Linked DNA regions of Homo sapiens. The protein of the gene in region 1 interacts with the protein of each later gene in a pairwise test. Each region holds a gene or a part of one and is shown in the gene's direction. Other genes may lie near its edges.

The links.
Region 2: the proteins of FNDC3B (region 1) and ERI3 interact in a two-hybrid assay, tested with the Homo sapiens proteins (one large-scale study listed by BioGRID).

What each region holds. Positions count from the first base shown.
Region 1 is NC_000003.12:172,045,825-172,049,640, forward strand, and holds part of FNDC3B (fibronectin type III domain-containing protein 3B), read left to right. Parts: intron 1-3,816. UniProt on the Homo sapiens protein: May be a positive regulator of adipogenesis.
Region 2 is NC_000001.11:44,352,357-44,356,969, reverse strand, and holds the start of ERI3 (ERI1 exoribonuclease 3), read left to right. Parts: upstream 1-1,712; 5' UTR 1,713-1,943; coding exon 1,944-2,078; coding exon of another isoform or gene 2,079-2,132; exon of another isoform or gene 2,133-2,217; coding exon of another isoform or gene 2,218-2,265; intron 2,266-4,044; coding exon 4,045-4,120; intron 4,121-4,613.

The sequences.
Region 1 (3,816 bases):
ATATATTATGGTTATGGCATTATGTGTTGTAAAGAGGGAGAGAATGCTTGAATTATTGTGGCTAGATAGGGGCAGGTAGACAAGCACAGGCCCAACTGGAAGGATGACTTGATGGTAGTTGAGCACTTTGCAAGGTACCTCCAGTGAGATGCCAGACCCTAGTAACAAGCTCACCTGGAGGGGAGTTTGTTTGTGGTGCAGGTTTAATGTCAAGGACCAGTTCTTGGAAACAGAAGGTATGTGGGGTGCCAGTTGAAGATCAGGGGACAGAAATGTTTTTAAAACCACCAAGTATAAATCACATAAGATCGATAGACAGTCGTGATCAGCCATCTACATACAGATGAGGATGTTTGTCAGTTTGAAAATGGATCGATTGTTGAATTTTTCTTTGTTTCTCCCCAGTTAAGATATGCAAGTTTAGCATTCTGTAAGTGTTGGATCAGAATTTCTGATGCCCTTGGCACTCACTACTCAGTGTCAGTTTAGACATTGGCTCCTAATTTTTTTTCTTTTTCTTTTTTAAGATACAGTGTTTCACTGCTGCTGGAGTGCAGTGGCTCTATCATAGCTTACTATGGCTTCGAACTCCTGGGCTCAAGTGATCCTTGAGTAGGGCTATAGCTAGGACTATAGGTTCACGCCACCATGCCTGGCTAATGTTTTTTTTTTTATTTTTATAGAGACAGGGTTTCACTTTGTGGCTCAGGCTGGTCTCTAACTTCTGGCTTGAAGCAATCCCCCCGCTTCAGCCTCCCAAAATGTTGGGATTATAGGTTATGAGCCACCTTGCCCGGCCCTGTTTTGTTTTTATAATATCATTAAAATACCTCATCAGTTTCAAATAACCATTTTGCAGGGTGGTAGGGGATTTTTCTGAGATGGTGTTGAGTCACAGTGTTATTTGAGGTTCTAGTAAGTATCAAAGTGTGTCTTGTGTTAAATGATTCTATTTGAGCTTAAAATGTAATTTCATTTCAGTTACTTGTTTATTGACTCAGAATGCATTTGTTGAGATCTAGACCAGGTTCTTTGTTAATGGAATGTTCTACTCTGTTCTGATGTTTTTGGAATCTTGTATAGAGAACAGTGTCTACCACCAAACTCCTAAGGCTGGATGGTGGTAAGTTCAACTCTTTGCTACCTTCTGAAATTTGAGAAATAGTAAAATTGGAGCACCTTCAGGCTGTGTTAGACTTTAAGGCTTCTAAATTATATTAGAATGTAAGGATACATCTTTGTTTTGACCCTGGAAAGAGTAGTAAAGATTTTCATAAAGGCCAACTAGTCATAAAAACTTACTTAAATTGACATGATCCTAACTCACAATTATGAAAAGCTTTCTGTTGAAATAATTGTGTAGAAAGTGATCTTTATACATGAACAAAGGTGGGATGTTTTAGAAATAATTGAAGATTCTAAGATCCCAGGAAATATAATGGTTTAATTTATTTTTAAGGGATTTAAGATTCCCCATAGCCTATGAAAGAGGGGTCTCTATTAAAAATAACGCCATTGTTCTAGATGTAGCTAATTAGGGATTTGCAATTATCTAGGCAAGGCTAGGATAAAGTTTGGCTGCCTATTCTGTATGAAAAGGTTTTACTGTAAATATCAAGTTTAAATAGATCTTAAGAGGAATATTTACCTAATTAAAAGAACAAACCACTTTTAAGCACCTTGGGAAAATCAATTTACTTAAAAGCAGTGTAAAAATGCAGAATGCATTCACTGATGCTGGTCTGCTGGTGGTCTTTTCATAGAGATACAGGAGCCCCTGGAAAGTCAGTGCTCTCTGTGGATTGCCATGAAATAAATATTGATTGACTCAATGCTATTATGTGAACTACAAACAGTTTACCAGCAATGGGTAGAACTATATTATTTGCTTGCAAAATACATCACAACAATAAACACAATATCTGCCTCCCCCACCCCACTCCACTCTACCAATAGACTCCAACTATGCCTATTTATTGGTTTTGGAGTTTTTCTATTGACATTTGTTTTGCTACTTGTTAACTTCTTTTGTCATGTGTAAGCATTTGATGGCAGATTGGGGACAGCAGGTGTTAAAGGTTTAAGAGCATCATTATTGCTTTTAGCTTCATTTCTTCTGCCTTTGTGTTTGGGCAAGATTGTGGAGAGTCCTGAGTTTAGTATTTAGATAAGGTAATTACATGTCCTTCTCCTCTACTTTTACTAAAGCAAGATCCTCCTGGGCAGCTTAGTTCCAGGTACTGTATGAACTTGCCAGTAATAAGAGTAAGTTTCTTTTAAAAGATTTCTGGATATTTTACGTTTTATACTCAGTCACTCAGATGCGAGGTTTTCTAGTATGTGTCTACTTAGGGGTCAGATTTGACCAGTTTTTAACAGTACAAGTTGTACATATAGGATACTTAATGTATTTCTAGGATATTATGCTTCATTTTCTCTTAGTATTTTAAAGGTTTTAAAAAACCCATTCTATACCTTCTATATCTTTTATTGTTTAAGTCATTCAATGGGAAAGAAAATAATAAAAGTCTTTAGATGCTGTTTCTGATTTTTCGATCATGGTTTTTTTAATCTCAAGAAAAATAATTCTGATTAAGAAATAGAGGTAAACATTATTCTGAAGTAGTGAATTAGAGAATACTTAAATATATTGAGCTGGAATCCTTGTGTATTGCATGTTGGGAATGTTAAATGATAAAGCTACTGTGGAAAACAGTTCTGTAGTTCATAAATATTTACACATAGAATTACTATATGATTCAGCAATTCCATTCCTATTCCTATACGCAAAAGAAAGCAGGGACTCAGGTACTTAAAAGCCAGTGTTTATAGCAGCATTATTGACAATACCTAAAAGGTAGAAACAACCCATGCCCATCAACAGATGAATGGATAAACAAAATATGGTATTATATATTGGAATATTTTGGTACAGTGGAATATTATTCAGCCATAAAAAAGAAGGCAGTTCTAATACATGCCATAACATGAATGAATCTTGAAAACATTATGCTAAGTGAAATAAGCCGGACACAAGAAGATAAATATTGTATATATCCACTTGCATGAGATGACTAGGATAGGTAAATTCATAGAGACAAAAAGTAGAATAGAGATTACCAGGGCTTGGGGGAAGGGAAGATGGAGAGATAGTGTTTCATGGGTTTAGAATTTCTGTTTGGGATGATAAAAAATTTCTGGAAATGAACAGTGGCGATGGTTGTACAACATTATGAATGTATGTAATGCCACTAAGTTGAATGCAGAAAATGGTAAATTTTTTGTTATGTATATTTTATGACAATTAAAAAATGCAAAAGTAAATATTGAAGATGTATCCTACACAGTCTCCATATGCCTCTTTACTCCCCCTTGGTCTGCTTCAGGCAGGTATATAGTTATTTTTTCTTCATCTGGCTGTTGCAGTGTAAATGGAGATTTCCCTAGGCCATTTTTTGGAGATCAGAGAGTTTCCTTATTTTATTAACTGACTTAAATTTAAGAGGAAAATGTTTAAAAGTAGATCTCTGGAGGGGAAAAAAGGGCATTTTAATATTGAGATGAATCAGGGAGTTTGTTAATATTGGCAGACCATGTAAGCACATGAAGATAATCTATCCTGAATAGCACAGCGAGTCATTTAGAAATCCAGTAGTAGGTGTACACTCGGACCTGTCACATTTTCTAACCTTTAAACATTGTTTTTTGTTTCTTTTTTTTGAGATAGAATTTCGCTCTTATTGTCCAGGGTGGAGTGCAATGGCGCGATCTCGGCTCACCCTGACCTCTGCCTCCCAGGTTCAAGCGATTCTTCTG
Region 2 (4,613 bases), on another chromosome or scaffold:
CACTGCCTCTTGTCTTATTTTTATATTTACTTGTTTTATTATCTATTCTTCCTCCTACAGCCCCTCCCCAATTTATTTATTATGGCTCACTGCAGCTTTGTCCTCCCAGGCTCCAGTGATCCTCCCACCTCAGCCTCCTGAGTACCTGGGACTACAAGCACGTGCCACCATGCCTGCCTAATTTTTAACTTGTTTGTAGAGATGAGAATCTCATTATGTTGCCCAAGCTGGTCTTGAACTCCTGGTCTCAAAGGATCCTCCTGCCTCAGACTCCCAAAGTGTTAGAATTACAGACGTGAGCCACGACACCCAGCTTCCCTCTCCAATTTAAAAGCTCCTTGAGAATAGAGGTGTGTCGTTATTCATCAATGAATCCTCAGCAACAGAAACAGTGCCTGACACTTAAGAGAGGCACTATAAATACAGATGGACTGACTGACCAACTGGGGTTAATGTGTAGGTAATAATAGGAGAATCTGTTCCAGCTCCAAGAGTTGGGGGATAGTGCCTCCACTTTACTGACCTCGGGATAAGTCTGTCCCTGCTGCTGGATATTCCCTCATTTGTTCGCAGACATTTATTGCGGGCCTTCTTTATACCTGCCCTATGCGGTGTATTACTGATACAACATGAACAATATGGAAAAAATGCTTTTCCTAAAGGACTTAAAACCCTGTGGGAGCGACAACAAGGAAACAGACAATTATAAGACAATATGATAAATGCTATAGGTCCACAGCAGAATCACCTAACCTATGACGTGGGTGGGATTAAGGAAGGCATTCCCTGATATGGGGATTACCAGGCACTCTCAGCTCAGGTGGAAACCGTTATGGTAAGGTCCGCTCTCAGAGGTGGTAGGGCCCAGAAATGACATCATCCTAAGTGTAAGTATGCAGACAGCACACAGAGGGGCTTGGTAACTGAAGCTGGGCCCAGAGGATGGGGTCCTGACCGATTGGGAAGCTGTCAAAGCCATCATTCCCAGCTCATAACCTGGGACCCATGACTACCCAGAAAGGCATAACCAGGATGAAGAAACACAGGTCTCTCCAGCTTACTGGAGAGACTGACTGGGGAAGCTCCTCACAGCTGAGGCCAGAAACCTTTTAAACAGAAGTTTCCTCTGAGTGGACCTGAACAAGCCAGTTCCCTCTTCCTTAGGACGGCCCTTCACAAATCTAAGCATTTTCCTCTTAGCTTAATCCCTCCTTGTCTCAGGTCTCCCCCAGGCCCACATCCGAAAGTAGATGACAATAATTACTTGTTGAATGAACGAATCATGAGGAGTCATGTAAATAGAATTCTGTCACGTTGTGAGCCCACATTCACCTTACGGGTATATTGGAGGGCGGGAAAACGGAGATGGGGGGCTCCACTAATGTGTGTCTGTGATCCTGGTTAGATCGCTGTAGGCCATAGAAAGTTTCATTTTAAAAAAATTCCTTTCACAGATCAGAAGTGATGTCCCCGTCCCCGTCTTCTCTTCTGAGTTTGTGCAACGTCAAAACTACAAGTCCCATAAGGCCGGCGGCCGGGAGTCACCATCTTGACATACCTTAGCGCGCATGTCGGCGGGAGAGCGAGCGTTTGGGGAGAAGAAGCCCCGCCTGACTGCAGCCCATTGGTCAAAGGGGTCGGCAGCGGGCTCAGCGGTTGGCCACAGCGCCCGCCCGTCCGCCGCGTCGGTCGGGGTCAGAGTGCGCGGAGGTGAGTCGGTGTGTTGTGGACTCGTGGTGCTGGCTGCCGCTGTTCAGGCGGCCGGGAACGGGCGGTGGGGAGCGGGCGGAGCTGGCCCTGCCTCTGCCTGGCCGGCGCCGCAGTCGGCGCGGGCCGCGCCCGCCGCCGCCAACTGCCCTGAGCGCTTGCTGAGGCCGAGGGAGACGTCGGGGCCTGCACCTGGAGGGAGCCTGCCGCGCTGGCCCCGAGGAGGGGGCGTTGCCATGGCGACAGCCTCTCCCGCTGCTGACGGGGGGCGGGGGCGGCCCTGGGAAGGAGGGCTGGTCTCCTGGCCCCCCGCCCCTCCCCTTACTCTCCCCTGGACTTGGATGGGCCCGAGTTGGGGGCAACACCCCGGGGTGGGTGATGCTGAATGGCCCCGCCAAGATTGGGCCCTGGTTAATGCATGCGGGGTGAGGGTCGCGGTGCGCAGAATTTATGCAACCTGGGGTGCTGGCCCATGTGCTTACCCTGGATGCTTACTTAATCTACTGAGTAATGTTCTGGCGGAGGGGGAGCGGGGCAGAGCTTTGCAAGACAGGATGGGTGAGTTTATTAAGGGGGTTGACTTACTGGGATTACTAGAGAAGAAAAAGGTTTGACTAGAGAGGCTAGAAATGGAGCATGGAGATTGTGGGTAGAACATTCCCTTGACCCTCTCGCCAACACATGCCCACACACCAGGTTAGCAGTTTACCTCTTTGTAAATCTGAAGCGGTGGTAGTAGTGATGGTGGAAGGAGTGAATAAGGGCCTAACCTGGCTAGCTTTCTGTTTGCCTGTCTTGCAAATGGTCCAGCAACAGGTGTTTTCTTAAAAAAAGCATGAACTTGGATTGAGGCTTGACTGCGAGTTCTTGCAAAATATAACTGCTCCTTGTTGACTTGGAAGATGCTGGATGTGGGGCCCCTCAATGGGGGTTTGGATTTTGTCCTTAGAGCTGGATTTTGCAACAAATAGTGCCCATCGTTGTGTCTGCGAGAGGTCTCTGGCCACTTCAATGGCATTTACTCTTGTCAGACATTTAATCAGTCTCCCAGCGGAAGGGCAGCAAAACATGAATCCTATTGGCTAAAAGAGTGTACGCTATTCAAACTATAGTAGGTTGTGAGTGGCTAAATGAGTTTTGATTGTAGAGTTTCTTCCAGAAATTGGCTTCATCAAATTCTGCTTTATTCTGACTTTATCATATACAGCATGCCTTGTTTTAGTGGGTTCTTGCTTGGAGCTTAGTTTATTATACCTGAATCTCCTACCATTTAAAAGCCAATTTATAAACAGGGACTTGGAGTGTGACTCCACTAATGTGTGTCTGTGATCCTGGTTAGAAACCCACTTGGCTGCCTTTTCCTCAGGAGGTGGGGGTTGGGGGAAGGGAGCTGCCGGGAAGTGATTGATAAGGTTTCCTTTATAGATTCTGTGGTGCTTCACTGGAGCTCAGAGCACTTTGGCAACTTAAGCACTCCAAATTAAAAGCTCATTAACAATTCCTGCCCAAAGATCCTGTAAATAATCAGCTAGCTAGGTCATAGAGCTTGGCTAAGAGCTTTTCTTCCAACTTGAAATTTCCAAATAAAAGTGCTTTTATTCCCTTTCATTTTAAAAAGTGTTTTCTTTGTGGTGGGGTAAATTGGTGAGTGGCCTTTTCCCAGGGGATCTGAGTAGAAGAAAGTCTTAAATGTGTGGAATGGTAGACAGGAATATATTAGTTCCAACCCTAGGTGTTTCTTTATGCAAAAGACATCACTAACAGGGGCATCTCTGCAACTTCTGGTCCTTTGGAGGATATGAATTAGTTGAAAAGGATGATAGGTATCTATTGATGTTTTGACTTGGGATTTAGTTACCTTGACTTTCTTAGAGCTTGAAGCAGGCTTGGAACTATCCTGAAAGTGTTTCCTAGTCTATGTGGCCATTTTCAGTATGGCTTGTGGATTTGTGGCAACCAACCCCTACCCCAGTCCTGGCCCAGCCTTAGTTCCTTAGTTCTGAATATTGTCAGCCTTACCAGTGTCTTCCTCCTTGACTAGACTAGGATTCTGAAACTACCCAGAGGCACCACTTCATAGCTATCTTTCTCGGTAAATGTTTAGTGTTTCTAGGAGGTGAGCCTCCTTAGGAGCAAAAGTATATGACTAGAGAACATGAAAATCATTACAAATGTAGTACTAATAGTTTCTGAAAGCTCTGTGGGGGCACTGTCTTTGCACATAGATAGCAGTTATCCCGAAGTTTGAGTTTAGAGTTTGAGGTGTAGTATCCTTCATGGGGATTTGATCCTTGGTATTGAAATAGACTTGTTGCAGAGATGTGTATTTATCCACAGCATTGGGGCTTTCCAGCTCTCACAGAACCTTCAGCATCCCCAGCTGCCGGTCTTGGCATCTTCGAAGTAAGGAGAGGTGAGAATCCTGTTGCATGGTCAAGTCTGGCTTTATTTTCTTCTGAGTATTTGGGCTTGGAGGGTAGGGGGTGGGGGCTGATGCAGATTGTATTTTTTTTCCCATGTATCCCCAAAGTCTAAACGAATCATATTTTTTTGTAGCTTCTTCTGATAAAGTAACATATGCTCAAAGTCTGTAGAAACTTACTTAAAGTTTCTAAAGTGGTAAGAGTTGGAGGTGGGAGATCCAGACTGTCAAGTTCTGTCACAACTGCTTTATGGGCATCTCATGAGCACCTACTTTAGGTTCAGGATGGTTGAATAGAACCAGAATAGCCCATTATCCTGAGAAATACACATCTTAAGAAAATAGGAAGAAACATCTTCATTTGGCTTTAAACATTTATCTATCTATCTATCTATCTATCTATCTATCTATCTATCTATCTATCTATCTATCTATGAGACCTTGCTAGGTTGCCCATGCTGGGCTCGAACTCCTGGGTTCAAGT